2 linked regions of the Homo sapiens genome follow. The protein of the gene in region 1 purifies or fractionates together with the protein of each later gene. This does not show direct contact. Each region holds a gene or a part of one and is shown on either strand. Other genes may lie near its edges.

Region 1 (9,072 bases):
GGTGCGCCAGGGCGGGAAGGGGCATCTGCTGTTTGGGGAGCCAGCAGGGCCTGGGAGTGGGGAAGACTGACAGGTGAGGTGGCTGGGAGGGCCCAGGGACAGCAGCAGCCCAGGCACCAGGGCAGGGGGCAGAGGCTGCTTAGTGGACAGAGACCAGGCCAGGTGGCCTCTCACGCCCTTTATCCTATGGGAGGGAAAGGCAAGAGGCAAGGTATAAGGTGGCAAGTGGGCATCCTTCAATTCATCTGTGGAGTCAGCGCCTAACTCGGCGTCAGGCACAAAGAGATAGTCCATGAGCCAGCCCAGGACAAGCTGCATGCGGGGCCTCCCACCACCACTGCTGCCCCGGCTGGAACTGCCAAGGGTCCCCTCACCGAGGCACGGTGCGTTTCCTGGTGGGAATGACAGGAAATCAGGAGGCCAGGGGAGCCCTCCACCTGTGTGTTTACCTGCAGAGTCCAAGCAGTCGGCAACACTGGAGACCTCAAACTTCTGGTCAAGGATGCCGGGATAGGCGTCCAGAAAGTCCACTGACTTCAGCGGACTGCGGAAGCAAGCTCCATCTAGGACACACATTCCAGTGACTTTGGTGGAAGACAGGAACCCAAACCATTGGGAACCCCAAGCTGGGGGCACCCCAAAGCACAGAGAGTGTCCAGAGGACCCGACGGCCACAGACCCACAGGCGAGGGTCTGGGTCTCAAGGACCCTCCCCACCCCAGCCTTTGCCCATGCCTTGGGGAGTTGGTCGGCACTATCTAATAACATTTCTTTCCTTCTGCAAACCTAGGATGCATTCACAGAACAGCTGAATCAGTGAGGCCAGGAGAACCCACCCCTGCCCCAGTTGGGTTCCAGCGCCCCCACCAGTGTGCAGCAGAGCCTCACCGTGGACCTGGTGTGCCAGGAGACCCAGCAAATAGTTGCTTGTCTGCTGCAGCAGGATGTTGTTGTCACCTTCGTATGTGCAGTTGGGATCGTTGTCATCTCTAAGGACACCCAACCGGTTCACTGCAACAAAGCCACAATAGTACCATCATTTAAGACGCATATTTGAGAAGCAGCCTGTCACTATGTGAGAATTTAAAAAGCCTTAAGAGGCTGGGTGCGGTGGCTCACACCTGTAATGGCAGCACTTTGGGGGGCCGAGGCGGGTGGATCACTTGAAGCCAGGTGTTCAAGACCAGCCTGACCAACATGGTGAAACCCACCTCTACTAAAAATACAAAAATAGCCAGGTGTGGTGGTGTGTGCCTGTAATCTCAGCTACTCGGGAGGCTGAGGCAGGAGAATCGCTTGAGCCTGGGAGGCGGAGGTTGCAGTGAGCCGAGATTGCGCAACTGCACTCCAGCCCGGGTGACAGAGCAAGACCCTGTCTCAACAACAACAACAACAAAAAAAGCCATGAGTTTGAGACCAGCCTGGGCAACATAGTGAGACCCTATCTCTATAAAAAATGAAAAAAAAAATTAGCTGGGCATAGTGGCACGCACCTTTAGTCCCAGCTACCCAGGAGGCTGAGGTGGGAGGATTGCTTAAGAGCCCAGGCATTTGAGGCAAAAGTAAGCCATGGTCATGCCACTGTACTCCAGCCTCCGGGACAGGGCAAGACTCTGACCAAAAAAAAAAAAGCCCTGAACTCAGCTTGACCAGACACAAAGAACTGCCACCTGTGCTTCATATCCCACCTCCAGCTCCTCACTGCTGTCAGCAAGCCCTGCAGAGCCTCCCCTGGCATGGGGTTGCTGATAGGAGGGAGCCATCTCAGCGAGCTGATGCCCCCAGGGCTACCCTTCTTCCGTCCATAACTGAATGAACTCTTCTTTTAACACAGGAAATTTCAAGATAACTGTTTTTTGTCTTTCCTATCAGTTAGCTGGATGCCTTCACATATGTTGTCAGGCTTGCTTTCCAGACCCTCACACACTTGAGCCTGCCTACTGTGATGGAAAGTGTTCTCTGAATGTGAGGCTGGGATGGGCCTAGCAGGAAGGGAGTGGAGCTGACTTCTCACACTCACGTACTGTGACTGATGGATCCTGAGAGCATGAAAGGAGTCCTATTGCAGCCATACTGCCAACACGCTTGTGATTAGCCTTGTGATCACCTAGAACACCTGATTTTCTCCTGACTTACTGTCAAATCATGCCACGAGCTTCCTGCCACGTAACAGGTTGGCCACTGAACAAGAGCTGGGAGAGGCCTCAGCAGAAACATTTGCAATTGATTTTCTAAACCTAGATGGAGCCTCGGTCATATTGGTCTCAATCCCAGCATATGTATATGTATGTGTATATGTATATGTATGTGTATATGTATATGTATATGTATATGTATATGTATATGTATATGATTAATCTTGATTCCATCATCTTTGTTGTCTGCAGTACTGCAAGATTCAATTTCCTTATTCAACTATTTATAGAATCCCGATGAGTTACAAAGACAAAAACTACTAAGGGCATTGCGCAGAGGACAAAGCATGCAAATGAGTAACTTGTGTACAGCCATGGCTACCCGCATGTCAGTAAGTGACAAAGACAGATTGTGGTGGGAGTGAGGGGCCACGTTGCTAACAGCCCATGCTGGAACAGGTGCGAGTTAGAACTGCAGTGGTGGGCGGATGATCGCTGAAAGTGTGTGTGTAGTTCTAGATAGAGCATCACAAAAACTCTCACAAACTTGGCAAGGACCAAGTGCTCCTGGAGGGCAAGAGAGTTTTGCTGATGCTGTGGCTGTTTTGAGTGTGTACATGGCCTTCTTTGAGCAACCAGTTTTTGCCAGTTAATTATTTAAGATTAGCACACGGGAAGTTTTGCAGGTAAGCTGTAAATAATGCTGATGATAATTCTAATAATAACAGCATTAGCAAATAAAAAAGTCATTGGGCACGCACTACATGCCAGATACCATGCTTACACTTCATACGTGGTAATTCACTTAATTCTGGCAAGAACCTATGTTGTGGGTACACTATTATCACCCCCACTTTAAAAATAAGAAAACTGAGCACAGTGAGGTTAAGCAACCTGCCCACAGTTACCAGGCTGTTAGATGGAGCCAGGACTCAATCCCAGGCAAGCTGGTGGCCTCCGCTCTTAACCATATAACAGCTGCCTCAGTCATCATCAATGCCGATATAACTAACTCTTTATCTAAGTGTAAGAATTTTCTATTCAAACAAAACATGGTGCTAGTTTACTACCAAGCTGTTAACCAAATAGTTAAAATTCAAATGAGCAGATCAGCTGCTCTCTGCCTATATTTTGGCCAAGAAGCATCAGGCATCTGAAAGCAGTGGGATCTATCTAGGGCAGGGGTTGGCAAACTTGTTCTGCAATGGACCAGAGAGTAAATATTTTCAGCTCTGTAAGCCACATGGTCTCTGTCACAGCTGCGATTACTCATCTCTGCCCTTGCAGTGCGAAAACAGCTGCAGGAAATGTGCAAATGAACGGGGGTGGCTGGCTGTGTTCCAATAAAACTTTATTTGCAAAAACAGGTGGCAGGCTGGATTTGGTCCTCAGGCCGCAGTCTGCCGACCCCTGGTCTAGAGTCAAACAGCAGGGCTAAGGACAGGAAACCACCATGCGCTTCTCCAAAACCTACTGGCCAGATAGCCGTGTCCTCCACACGCCTCCCGGCATTCCTGAATTCCTTGCTGGGTGGTCCACGAGGCCAGGGGCTTGCTGGCCGATGCCAGGGCGTGGATCTCACGTCCAAGCTCTGCCTTTGGGTGAGGGAATCCAACAAGAACAGGTGAAAAGAGACTTTAGACACCAAAAAGTCATAAGTCAGCAATAGCATCAAACCACCATATCACCTCTAGTCTAATACAAGACATCCCGAAAATGACAGAAGAGGAAACCTAATTGTAATTAGAAATAAAAAAGGGTCTTTATCCAAGTATGGATACACTGTGGTACGCTCATACCATTTCACAACAATGAAAACACAGCTCTACACAGCAAATAGCTCTCAGGGCCCTAACACGGGTCCCAGAAGCAAACTGCAGAAGAATGTGCGTCATGGCCCACTTTATATAAAGTTCACAAACGTCAAAGTGAATGACACACCATGGAAGGTTGCAATTGTTTGCAGCGAAACCATGAAGAAAGGCCAGGGAACCAGACTCAGCACCGCAGACAGTGCTCGCTCCCAGGACAGGGAAGGGCCGGGACCAGTCCATTCCCAGAAGGCTGCAAGCGCCTCGGTAACTGATGGTCTGCTCTGTGTGGGGGCTCACCGTGCCTCCCTCAGGCCTAACATGTTTTATTGAGACTCCTTTGCTGTCCATGGCCAAACTACCCTGAATGAGCCTGATCTCGTGAAGCTAAGCAGGGTCGGGCGTGGTTAGTATTTGGATGGGAGACCGCCTGGGAATAGCAGGTGCTGCAGGCTTTTTTTTAAGGGGAAAAAAAAAAGAAAGAAGACTCCTTTGCTTCTGCTTGATATCTAATGATGAAAACTTAAGAGGCTGGGCCAGGCACAGTGGCTCACGCCTATAATGCCAGCACTTTGAGAGGCCGAGGCGGGCAGATCAGTTGAGCTCAGGAGTCTGAGAACAGCCTGGGCAACATGGTGACACCCTGTCTCTACTGAAAAATAAAAAAAATTAGCCAGGTGTGGTGGCGGGCACCTGTAGTCCCAGCTAGTCTGGGAGGCTGAGGCAAGAGAATTGCTTGAACCCAGGAGGCAGAAATTGCAGTGAGCCAAGATCGCACCACTGCACTCCAGCCTGGGCAACAGAGCGAGACTCCGTCTCAAAAACAAACAAACAAACAAACAAACAAAAACTTAAGAGACTGATTCAGAGTAAAAGAAGAATTTTTAATTTTAAAAAAGAAAGACAATTAAAAAGGAAAAACAATTAAGAGGAAGACACACACACGCACACACACACACACACACACGCACACACACACACACACACACACGCATGCTAAGTCCAGTGACCCATTTTATGAGTGTTTTCAACTTCACATAAGGGGCTGAGCTGAGGCCCTCCTCTGCCTGGGTTAAACCACTGAGTTTCAGAAAGAATCAGCCTGGTCACCCTTTACAACATTATTCACAGGAGAACAATGCAAGTGTCAGCTGGCAAAAGCTCCACTGACTCACGCTCCAGGGAAAACACAGGCTTAACCCCTTTAGTGGTCAGAAGCGCTCCCTCCTCAGGCCTCCAGGCCTGGGGTTTGCTCTGCCATCAATCCTGCAGGTCATCCCTTCGCCATCATCTGCCGTGAATGTGGACACCGATAATATTTCAAGATATGCTAATTAGATACAGGCTTTTTCTGATGTTGTACATAACAGCAATCTGTGGCGTTTCTCCTCTGCTTTCAAACACGGTTATTTCTTTTGATTCACATTTCACTCTTGCTCAGGAGGCAGCAGGAGGGACAATGGAAAATCAGTTCATAATCATCTACAAAGAAATCCGTTCCCGATGTCTCTTTATGCCGAGGCTGATCTCGGGATTTGCACGCTCGTTTCTGGCACAAATCCTCTGACTGTCAACTCAAATCCAGTCAGTGGGATTCAGACCTTTGTGCAGCTGTTTACAAAAGGCTCAGAACCATGAAATCCACTGAGGGGCGGGTAACGTGGATTTTGCAAAACCGTCATGTTCTCAAAAGGAGACCAACAGCTGAACTCACAGACTGGAACCGGGAGTCGTGTCAGCACATCCTTGAGAGGCAGGGGTGTGGACGCGTGCCCAGCCCGTTCAATCGCGGCAGAGGCCAAGAGCTCCGAGTGGGTGGGAACAACTGGAGGAATGCTCTGTCCTCGCAAATCAAAGGACTGATTTTGCTTTGAAATGAAGGTTGAATCTATGCTGCTCCAACCGTGTGAGATTTAAACGATGCTGCTGAGGAAGCAGACACCACCTCACCTGTCTGGCGCTGCGGTCTCCCGATGCAAGTCCTCGCTGGAGCTCCACCAGGTCCAGGAAGAGCGACTTGGAGAAATGGTCTAAGGCGTAGACAGCTGCCAGATATGGAAGCAAGCGCCATTGCTAGAACAGACAAGACACCTGCGTGAACACATCGTGGTTCCCATGAAGGGCAGCCCATCCCAGGGACCATGAAAGCCAGTGCAGGGAGAGGCCGTCAGGGCCACACACCCACTAGCGCTGAAGGTCTTCACATGTCTTCCCGGCACATCAGAAAGCCTTCACCCTGACACGCTCTCAACTCAGCCAGTTCGGCTTTCACCCATAGCCCTTGACAGACAAGCTCAAACGCAATTCGCTAAATGGCCGCTATTCACAGCTGTCCCATCAAAGTCACTACAGAACAAAGTGCCAGTCTATCTGTGAATTAAGAAGGCAGCACTGCTAGGGGCCAACTCCCCGGCACACGGACTGACTGGCTGACAGCATGAGCCTGTGAGGATGAGGCCGTCACCCTGGGACAGATGGGAAAGCTGAGGCCCACACAGAGCTGGCAGCCCCTCGAAAGGCTGAGTGCATGTCTTTTTCACTTTGTCTGAAACAGGATAGGGTCCACCTATTGTTGGATGGGGGGGTGGGTGGGTGGGTGGATGGATGCATGGATGGTGGGTGGTGGGTAGGTGGATGTGTGGGTGGGTGGATGGATGAATCCGTAGATGGGTAGATGGATGGGTGGGTGGATGCGTGGACAGGTGGGGGGATGCGTGGACAGGTGGGGGGATGCATGGATGGGTGGGTGGGTGGCTGGGTACATGGCAGGACAAGCCTGAGAGGATCCTGAGGAAACCGCCATCACCACCATGGTCTAACGTGTCAAGAGTGCTGAGCAGACATGGCGCCAGCTGCCTCCATGCCCTAACTTTGTTAATCCTCACACTGATCCTAGGAAGAAGTTTTATCATCAGTTCTAACTTACAAATGATAAAGCAAGAGCACAGAAAGGCTAAGGACCTTGCCTGGGGGCACACAGCCAGCTGGGGGTGGACCTTGGTGGTAAGGCCAGGCATGGTGGCCCCAGTGCGCTCTCTTGACCGCCGAGCTGCCCTTGGCACCCAGAGTGCTGTGACCACACACGGGAGGGGATGGGTGCCACACAGGCATGAATGGCAACACTTACTAAACAGGCTCATAGCCCTGGTCAAAGGATGTGGACAGAAACAACTGCAATTCTGTTACAATTTCCTGGAAGTTTCACCCAAATCTACCTTTATTCATGCACAGCTTGGCCTGGGACCTGGGCCTGAGTTAGCCTGTGCACTTTAACTGGATTTCTTATTTGATCCTCAGTTCTCTCACCTGTAAAGTGGGACTAAGCCCAACCCTCTTAGCTGTGAAGACCAAACCCAGAGCACAGGGCACGTTCGCTGTGACAGTTCATCCCCCTTCCATGTAACAATGTCTGTGCTTTTCCACGCTGCTGCCTGGGCTGCATCTGTGCATGTCAACAGCTGCCCCATCTCTGGGGACGTGTAGGGCCAACGCTCTGTGCCCACGCCACTGTTCTAAATGCCATCACAGTGAACAGGGCTGCACGCTCAGCTGCTGCTTCTTCCAGATCACCTGCCAGGAATCATTTCTTAGGGATGGGATGAAAGTGTCAAAGAGTGTGCACAGGGCGTGCAAGGCCACTACCCGCCAAGCTGTGGCGGCCTCACCTGAACGTGCGGCCGTGCACACACCCACCTCCCAGAGCCGCCCCATCCTTGCTTCTTTCTGGCCGGGCACAGTGACTCATGCCCATAATCCCAGCACTTTGGGAGGCTGAGGCAGGTGGATCACTGGAGGTCAGGAGTTCGAGACCGGCCTGGCCAAAACAGCAGAACCCTGTCTCTACTAACAATACAAAAATTAGCCGGGCATGGTGGTGCATGCCCATAATCCCAGCTACTCGGGAGGCTGAGACACGAGAATCACTTGAACCTGGGAGGCGGAGGTTGCAGTGAGCCAAGATCATGCCCACTGCACTCCAGCCTTGGTGACAGAGCAAGGCTCCGTCTGGGAAAAAAAAAAAAAAAAAAAAAAGACTTGCTTCTTTCCATCTTCCTTTTTTGGCTACTTCGTATCTACTCTTTTTAAATTAAAAACCATTTGCTGGAAGCCTTGCGGCCTGAGATGCCGCACTCCCGCTAACTAATCATCCTGTTAATTGCCTTAAGAGCTTTGATCAACTCCCAGTAACCAAACGGCAACTATGTAAAAGAAGTGAATTTGCATATAAAATAGAGAGACAGTGAAAGGATGCTTGAAAACCTCATACCTGCATTGGATACTCAAGCACTGGTATTTCCTCCTCCTCTGTGGGTCCAAACTGACGCCGAGTGGCTGAGAAGCGAAGAGCGATGGCCACGGCCAGCTTTAGGTTAAGGATGGCCAGGCTCACGATGGAGACCCGGCCCGAGGACAGGCTCCCCAGGGACGCTCCAAAGCGCTGCCTGACGTCCTACGGGAGGGACACAGATGATAAGCTCAAGCCCGGCTGCGCGGCCACCTTGGGCAGAGTGGCTCAGAGGCGAAGGTGCCCTCGTTTGTTCATCCAAAGTAGACCTGTGCCCACCTGCCCAGGCCCCATCCCCAGGGCGCCCAAGACACAGGACGGTGCGGCAGGCGGGTAGAGATGTCACTGATGAACCGTGGATGGAATGGGGGTGCCAGGGAGGGGACACCCAGCTGCCTGGAGAAGGTACAGTCCTAGCAGAGGGAATGGTATGACAGCGCTGGGTGAGGGTGCTCCCACTGTGGGGACTTGCAAACCATCTGCCTGGAGATTCCAAGGCCCACCTTTAACCTTGGCAAGAATCAGATGTGGCCTGTACTGCCAGAGGGCAGGGGCGGAGTCCATTACAGGCAGCCTTTCCAGGGGGTTTCACGGACACCTCTTGATCCTTGTGTGCCTGTGAACAGGCAGTTCCTTTACGTGCGTCTAGCTGGAATCTTCCGTCCACTATCTCCTCGCACGCATCAGCGGCGTCAGCAGAGGCTGTTGCTAAGGCCTGTCCAGGCTGCGGTGGGCACATCTAATCTACAGCCCTTGCCACGTGATCTGACCGTCCTTCCTGCCCTGCCCCGTGCTGCCCCATCGGGCCACTCCTCTGACCATCTAGGTCCTTCTTCCAAGG
Region 2 (9,072 bases), about 80 Mb from region 1:
CCTCCACAGAGTCAGTGCCTTTTGTATTTTGTTTTATTGACATCTTGAAGAAACAAAGAAAAACCTCAGCTTCCTCAGGATTTCTCTGTAATACACACTCTGAGGCTGGGTCTAAAATAAGTCTAGGGCAGCAGTTCCAAATCACGCCAGATGGTAGCACTAAGCCACCTTCTTCAGGCACCTGACCTGGAAAATAGCTAATCATCAGCTTTAGCTGTCCAGCCTACAGCCTCGGGCTCCACCAGGATTTTCCAACCTAATCACAGAATCAGAATGACTAGAAGGCAAATACTTTGTGTACTTAAAGATAGCTAAGTATCAAACTAATAGAGAAAGTTTCCAAGACAGAAAGAGCCCCTGGTTTCCACAGTTGCTCATTATCTTCCCAGTCAATTCTGACTCCTTTTTCTTCACTAACAGCCCATTCCCTTGCTCCTCCAAGAGAGTATAAGGATCCATGCACCACTCGGAGCTGGTCCTGTTGAAATGTTTGCTGAATAAAAGCAGGAAGGGTGGGGAAGAAGAGAAGAGAGGAGAGAAAGCACAGGGGAAGGAGTCCAGCACTGACAACAAATCTGTGGAGTTTTTCCAGACTGAATTCCCCCAGCAAGGAAGAGTGGAAGGAATTCGAGCCCTGTCACAGAAACCTGGATCCACACTCTACCTTCAGGCAGAAAGACAATGTCACAGTGTCTTTATCCACTATAGTGATGCAGGAGACAATGGAAGGGAAATTTTGGTGTCATGTCATAAGCAGATTACAAATAATAAAATACATCTGAAAATTGTGGTACCTCTTACATACATATATATACTCAATCACATCAAACAAAGAAACCCACCAAGTTCTCAAACACCTAGCATTTGTTGCCACTTAACAGGGAAGAAAAGAAATGGAAAATCAAATAATGCCAAAGTAAGCACCAACTCCCTAGGCATCCTTTACAGAGTTTCTGGAACAAGTACAAATATAAATAAATAATTTCAAATTATAAATTAGAACTCCATAATTCCAGGAGAATTGTTGGCACTTCAAGGGAGCCAAATGGAGACAACTTCTTCCAGATTTAGTTTGCTTATTTTAAAAATAACATAGGATTGGTAGAAACAAAGAGTAACATTGCTCTTTATGTTGTAATTACTTGTTAAAAGAAATGTTGGTTCACTATTATTCCTTCCTGGAAATAAGAGTCACAAGAAAAATTTTACCTCGTATTTGGAGCAAAGTACAAAAGTCTGGTCTCCTCCAGAGAAGATCTGCTTAACGATATGATATTTAAAGCGATCTGTCAAAAAAAAAATTCCGAAAGCATATTTTTCATTAATTGAAGTTTCTCCTTGATCCCCTTTTCTACTGTCGCAGAATACACTTCAGAGTGGGTACCTATCCATTTTAATTGTGTCACAGAAGTAAGAAATCTTCTCCCCTGGCTCACTGCCTAGGACTGTTTCTACTTCAATTAAAAATAAATATATAAAATGGTATCCTCCACTCTAACTCTTCTTCTGCCCCTCCCCAACTGCCAGTGAATCCTGACCTAGTTTCTCTTTTTCATTCTAACTCTGTCATGCCACTGACCTGAAATCTGAAATGGGCACTATTCTTTATGGTAACAATTCAGCATGTGAGTGTGGTGGGCCCAGGCCCCGTCAGGACGAATCTTGCCACGGAAGGACCTCCGTTTCCTGCTCCCTGCTTTACCTCCCATCACACTGTGTCCACGGTGACATTCTCCTACTACCACGTTGCCTTTATTTCTAATACACCACACTATTTCACATCTCGGTGCCTCCCCCCTCTGCTGCCCCTGGCACATGGGATTCTCCATGAATGTGCCCACCGAGAGCACAACCTGAATGTGCTTCTGGAACTGCACCTTGGTGGTGCTCACACCAACTCCCTCACAGTCCTCTACACCTGGCTAACTCCAAATCATCCTTCGAGGCACAGCTCAAACTTCCTCTAACCACAATACTCCTCCATGCCTTCCTCTGTGCTCCCACATTACCAAGAGGGTTCCTAAAACCATGTCATTTACATAACTGACATTTACCTGCTTATGTTATAAAATCATTTTGGCAAACATCCAAGCACAAATTTAGGACCATGGAAGTCAGGTTATAATTCAACTTCAAAAATTTGTGGTTTTGAAATAACCAAAAAACACCTGAGTTGGTAAACTTTCTAAATAAATGTATTCCACGTATGAGTACAATGTCTTGGAGAAAAGAATTTACAAATTACAGAGAAGAGGACACAAAGCCATTCTTTTGCTTCTGGGAACATCACCCAGACAAAATCTTGTTTATTTATATTTTAAGTTGCACTACATTTCAGATGCTCATATATCCATTCCAAAAATGTCTACTGAGTGACAAGTTCATGCCAGGTCCTGTGCTATATGCTAGGTTTACAAAAAGGAAAAGAGTTTGTCTGTGTCCTTGAGTTTCTTATAATCCAGTACTAAAACTTATGATGGTTACTGTTTCAAACAAATTCCTGATCAAGCCATAAGTGTGTCACTTTATCGACTTCAAAATCAAAATTAATAAGTTACACTTCCTTTTAATGATTCTCTAGCTCCATTTCAGCCTCAGATTTATTATTTCAAGGTGAAGCAGTCATTCAATATTAATGACTGCCTGACTTTGATTTCCAATGAAACCAAGACTGCTATTTAACTATTTTTTAAGGGAAGAAAAAAAATGGCTTAAAAAGAAATCACATCATGTTATATACCAAAATGCCAACAGCAAAGTAGAGGTAACATAGTACACATGATTTAGAATGACCTGGGTTTAAATCCTGCCTCCAGAATCTATGTGATCTTGGGCAAATTACTTGACCTCCTTAAGACTTTGTTCCCTTATCTCTAACATGGGGATAATAACCACTAACTAGTTCTTAGATTATTTTGAGTGCTTTGCATAGTAATGAAACGTCATTAAGCATTCAATACATGCGAACTGTCATTATTAGCAACAACAATAAAATGTATACACCACCACCAAGGTCTGTGGAAACAAAATAACTGGTATAGTTTGAATGTATGTTCTGGTCAAAACTCATGTTGAATTGCAGTAATCCCAATGTTGGAGGTGAGGCATGGTGGTATGTGTTTAGATCATGAGGGCGGATCCCTCATGAATGGCTTGGGCCATCCCCTTGGTGATAAGTGAGCTCTTGCTCTGAGTTCACATGAGATCTGGTGGTGTAAAAAGTATGGCACCTCCTCTCCACTCTTCCTCTTGCTCCTGCTTCTGCCATGTGAAGTGTCTGCTCCTTCTTTGCCTTCTGCCATGACTGTAAGATTCCTGAGGCCTCCCCAGAAGCCAAGCAGATGGCTGCATCATGCTCCCTGTAGAGCCTGCAGAACTGTGAGCCAATTAAAACTCTTTTCTTCATAAATCACCCTGTTTCAGGTGCTCTTTACAGCAATGCAAGAACGGCCTAACACAACAGTATTTCCTGCTTTATTTATTCTCTAGGATCTCAACTCTACAGCTTCATGCATAGTAAGTACAGAAATTATTAATTGATGTTAAAAAATACCTTATCTTCATTCCCTCCAAAAGACCTCAAAGTAAGTAATAGATACATATTCTGTAAACAACTGTTTTCATCACTTAAAATACCTTTAAATTCCAGAGACAATCATTCTTACCAGCTCGGGCTGAAAGCTGGCCACTGTGGGCAGCCCAGTAACCCTTGACAGGAGATGGGCACTTAACATTACAAGTGTGCCCAGTTCCTAATTGACCTCTTGCTCCACAACCAAATGCATAGATGAGTCCAGAAGAAGGCACGAAGGCTAGGGTATGTTGTCTGTGAAAAAATAATTTAACTCATCAGCATAGTTTCTACTAATGTGGATGTACACTCTGACTCTGACTTTTAACTTCCACATGTGCACAGCACAGGGTGCTCCTATAGAGCCTTTCCCATGTTAACACGTGACTCTTCTTGCAGCGGCTGCTCTCCATAATACTATCCTCTAACACTCTAGATCATGAGGAGGGTGGCAAGTCAGGAAAGAGCTGAATGATCTACTGCATGTGGCCTCTAAGATGAACAGAGAGAAGCAGGGTAGACTCAGGCAAAAATTTCCAAGAAGTTCTTTGGGACTCTCTCACTTTTCCTTTCTTTATCCCTTCCCCACATCCTGCTACTCTTTATCCCAAAAGAAGCCTAATGTCTCCGTGTTGCTCTGCTTATCTAAAACCCTTCCTTGCCACACTCTATCAAGGTCTTTCTCCACATTTCACCATAGGCGTGCATGCAGTTAAGATCTCTTAAAATGACGGTGACTAGGTATAATCACATTCTTCATCACTACAAAGATAAGACCAATTTCTGGGTCCTAGTGAATACAAGCAAGCTTTGAGGAACACTCACCTGCCACAAGCAATTTGAGTTACTTCACTACCCATCAGCTCTAGAACTCTTCTAGGGTTAACCTCATCATTCATGGAGTCGTGTCCAAGTTGCCCACAGGAACCAGCGCCAAAGGTAAACACACCTCCACTCTAACAAGGAACAAACACCATAGGACTTCACTGTATCTTTAAGGGTATACCTCTAAACCCTGTATACAAAATGCCTATCACAACAATGTGCACAAGAGCACTACATTCACTTGACACTTGGCCAAAATCACTTTGTAAGGATGTTCATTAAATAGAAAAATAATAAAAAGGGAATTTCAGACTGCATCTTTATGGAACAAAGATAGCAATGCTCAAAGGAATGTGTGCCTTCTGTAAATTTTTAAAATCGTTTGAAAGTACAATGATGTGTTAGGAAGCAAAATTTTAAAAAAGGAGAAACTAGGAGCTAGGCTAAATGAGATGATTTTACATGATCATTCACATGTAAGAAATTAGGTGCTCTACAAATTCCTTGGTAAGTAAGCTGTTTTTTTAACAGCTGTATTTAAATAAATGTTAAGGCATTTTATCAAAGTGAACGTAGAATAATATTTGTTCAATATAAAAATACATTTTCATTCTCTCTAGAATGTATTTAGAAGCAAAAGAAACATGATTATTTTAAAACATTAATTAAATTGCTGTTTCTTTTTTACATATTTAAATGACTTGTTTTAAAGGAACATAGGACATCATTTTATATATATTATATATACATAAAATAACAAATAAAAATAACAAAGTGCTGTCTTTGTTCCATAAAGAACCAAGGAATTTATATATATATAAATATATACATTATATTTATATATATAATCTACATTTTTATATAATCTACATTATATGTGTGTATATATATATAATCTACATTATGTGTGTGTGTGTATATATATATATATATATATATATATATATATATATATGAAAAATCTACAAGATTACCAAAGAGGATAACAGAGACATACAAAAAAGTAGTCTTTTTCTATTCCTTTGGAAAACAACAAACCCACATAAAAGAGAGCATTCAAGTTCAAGCCACAATACTGTAATCACACACCATCACTACACTAACATAATCAAGCAATTCTAATCACCCATCATATCCCCAGCACCAAAGTAAAATACTCTGAGCTCCTTACCTTTGTGAGAACTGCTGTGTGTTCTTCTCCACAACTAATATAGACAACTTTTTGCGTGCGTAAGAGTTTTACATGGCATGGAGATTCTCGATCTAGAATAAATTAAATATCAGAATATCACTACCATTTGCCTTTGAGATGAAATATACACAACTATCTTGGCATGAATTTTGGATTCCTGGATTCCTGACGCATGTTCAGTTTCCTGCCTGCATCTGTACTTGGATATCCAACAGACTTCTCAGTTTTAATTTACCTAAAACCTACCTCATGGTTTCCCTACACTCTCCAACCCTGCCCACTCTCCAGCTCACTTTACTACACACGGTTTTCCCCATTTCAGAAACAGTCATTTTGCCCTTCCAGCTGTTCCTTTATTTCAAACCACACATCCAACAGTGAACAAAACCAACTGGCCTCATCTTCAAAATATGTTTAAAATCTGACTTTACTCCCACAACCTCCAAGCTGGTCTTCCAGCTTCCCCCTTGACCCACTACAGCCAAAGCCAAAGTGGATCACGCTTCTCCTCCAAACCCTCAGGGTCTTCCCCTCTCACTGAGAAAACCAGTTATATCCTCACCCTGCCCCTCAGGGCCCTGCATAACTGGGTCTACACGACTTCTCTGACCTGCAGCTGTGCTACTCTTCCCCTTCTCTCCAACTACATCTCTTCCCACATGAGCACCTTTGCACACCCAGTTCTCTCTGACAGGAACATTTTTCACCCAGACATTTACATGTCCCATCTCCCACCTGATTTCCTACAGGTTCTGCTCAAACATTTTCTTATCAGAGGGGCCCTTCCCCACCACCTTATGTAAAGCAGGAAGCTGCACTCTCAAATCCTGTGTATTTACTGGTTTTGTTGCACCTCTACTCACTAGAATACAGTCTCCACTAAGACGAGGATGTTCTCTATTGTGTTCACTGCTTCTCCCTTAGTATCTCACATGGGGCTAGCACATAGTAGATCCTCAAGAAGCATGTGTTAAATGAATGTGCTTTTAAACTAAATACATACATATGAAGGGTTTACCTACCTTTTTCATCACTGAGCCCTAGCTGCCCGGCATTATTCATCCCCCAGCCAAAAACAGCTCCTGAGAGAGACAGGGCAAAGCTGTGAGCCCCTCCGGCAGCCACCTGAGCCAGTGGGATCCCCTCCAGGGACCTCACCCTCTGTGGGCTGGCTTGGGAGGGGAACTCCTTCCCTAAGCCAAGCTGCCCATGGCTGTTCTTTCCCCAGGTGAAGAACTGGCCATCTGAAATAACAGGATAACTGGTATTACCATAAAATGATACAAGCTCCACACACAAAAATAATCTAGTTATTAGGGTCATTTGCCAGTTGCCCCCCAACACCAAACCCACCCAAGAGCAAAGGAACAGAGATACTTCATGCTATCAGACTGCCAAAACCAAAACTCCCAAGTGATATAACAGAGAGGTAAGCTGAGTCTTACTGCCCTTCAAAGGCTATTAAAATTTATACACAGAAAATATTAAATGTATAAGTAAATTCAATTTCGGACAGGCCAATTACCAGGCTTAAGCAAGATCACACTAGTTCTGACCACACTAAGACTATGAGACCCAAGACTTCGGGAGGTCCAGCAATGACCACTTGGTCTGCTCTGCAGATAATCAAGCAGGACACAGAAGTGCAGATTTATTTAGGTTTCTCCAACTCCTTCTTTTTCATTCATTTGGGAGCTTGATAGTGGAATGTAGCTTGAGAGTTGGCTGTCGCTAAGAAAAATCAATCTCCTCCATGCTCAGAACACCTAGGTATGGTCCTGCCCCCTGCTTATCTTCCCCTGTGAAAGTTGGAGCAGCAATGATGACCACCTACTTCATCACCCACACCCTGAGAAAAGGATGAGCTATGCAAAGCCCATATGAGAATTGTCACTGTCCAACAGCAATGCATAGACCCTAACCAGTTAATTCAAAGTTTTCAGTTAGATAATATCACACAAAAAGACAAAGAGAAATGTTTTCAAAATTAACATAGCATTAGCATATGTTTAATGTTACTTTACCAGCCGCAAGAGCCAAGCAATGCCAGTTGCCACAGGAAACTTGTAATATTGTTTGCTGGTTCAGCTTTTGTATTAACCTAAAACAGAAAAGGCTTTCTTTTTCAGATAGATATTCACACACAAACACAATTATCAGAAATATTCCCAATTAAATAAAATGTCAGTAATAAATAACACCATCTTGCCTAAAAGTCTTTTTAAGGCCAGGCACAGTGGTTCACGCCTGTAATCTCAGCACTTTGGGAGGCCAAGGTGGGCTTATCACCTGAGGTCAGGAGTTCGAGACCAGCCTGGCCAATATGATGAAACCCCATCTCTACTAAAAATACAAAAAAAATCAGCCGGGCGTTGTGGCACATGCCTGTAATCCCAGCTACTCGGGAGGCTGAGGCAGAGAATTGCTTCAACAATTCCCCATCACCATTACTCTTGTCACAATCAGTTGTAGAAAAGAAGCAGGTCAGAAGAACAAAGACAGATAATAGAGAAATTGTACCCTTGAGGTGGGGAAGAGGGAGTCCATACAGTGCAAGCACATACTGTATTTTACCTACTTGTCTCCTTCTATCCTCCCCATAACCCTGTAAGGTACATAGTAAGTAATTTTTAAGTTAGGAAACTGAGGCTTAGAAAAGTTAACCTGCCCAAGGTCATTCACCTTACAAGTAAAAGAGCCAGTATTGGAATCCAAGGCTTGTTTGACATCAAAGCTATGTTACTTTCCACAATACAAAGGTATAAATTAGTGAATTTATTTCAATTAACTTATAATAGAAAACTATATACAAATCAAAGTCTTGGAAGTCATCCATAATTTGAACATGAATAATGAATATTAAGCTATTACTGTAGAACAGATTACTTCATTTTTAAAAATGAAATGCCGTTAAAAACCTTAATTGTGTTTTGGTCATCAACAAATGAAATATTTTTGCCATTAATGTTATAAACATTTTCCCTAGTATTACACACAACATAACATCTAGCACTTCTTTTTTCTTACTGCCACTCTTCCTCTCCCCACAAAATTAAATTAATTTTTGGAAGAAATGAATCTAAGACATTACCTGTCCTAAATCAAGAACTGAATCAAATCACTCTTACCTCCATGGTCCTCTTATTTAACACAACTTTTGATTAAAGAGACAAAAATCTAACAAGGGCAAAAAAGAAGAGGAAGAAGAATATGCTGTTCTTTAAAGGGGACGATAATTAGGCAGAGGAGGAGAGGCCATTTATTAAATTTGTACTCAGCAATGTATGTGATAGGCACTCCTAGCAATGGTGATGCTAAAATAAATCATCCAATTATCCTGCCATTAATAGCTCACATCTTTGTAGTAAAAACAGATATTAAATAAACAATTACAAAGAATGTGTACTATAGTAGTGGTATGTGGAACACCTGTAGCACAAAGGAGTAAGAATTGAATAAAGGAAATAAAATGGCAGCTCTTTGA

What was found.
Region 2: the proteins of ACOX3 (region 1) and HERC3 purify together in Homo sapiens (affinity purification with mass spectrometry; 2 studies listed by BioGRID and IntAct, with this or other methods). This does not show direct contact.

What each region holds. Positions count from the first base shown.
Region 1 is NC_000004.12:8,388,724-8,397,795, forward strand, and holds part of ACOX3 (peroxisomal acyl-coenzyme A oxidase 3), read right to left. Parts: intron 8,397-9,072; coding exon 8,214-8,396; intron 6,020-8,213; coding exon 5,897-6,019; intron 3,731-5,896; coding exon 3,610-3,730; intron 1,012-3,609; coding exon 889-1,011; intron 564-888; coding exon 450-563; intron 1-449. UniProt on the Homo sapiens protein: Oxidizes the CoA-esters of 2-methyl-branched fatty acids.
Region 2 is NC_000004.12:88,650,629-88,659,700, reverse strand, and holds part of HERC3 (probable E3 ubiquitin-protein ligase HERC3), read right to left. Parts: intron 7,690-9,072; coding exon 7,613-7,689; intron 6,833-7,612; coding exon 6,611-6,832; intron 5,660-6,610; coding exon 5,568-5,659; intron 4,528-5,567; coding exon 4,397-4,527; intron 3,827-4,396; coding exon 3,666-3,826; coding exon of another isoform or gene 3,628-3,665; exon of another isoform or gene 2,267-3,627; intron 1,287-2,266; coding exon 1,210-1,286; intron 1-1,209. UniProt on the Homo sapiens protein: E3 ubiquitin-protein ligase which accepts ubiquitin from an E2 ubiquitin-conjugating enzyme in the form of a thioester and then directly transfers the ubiquitin to targeted substrates.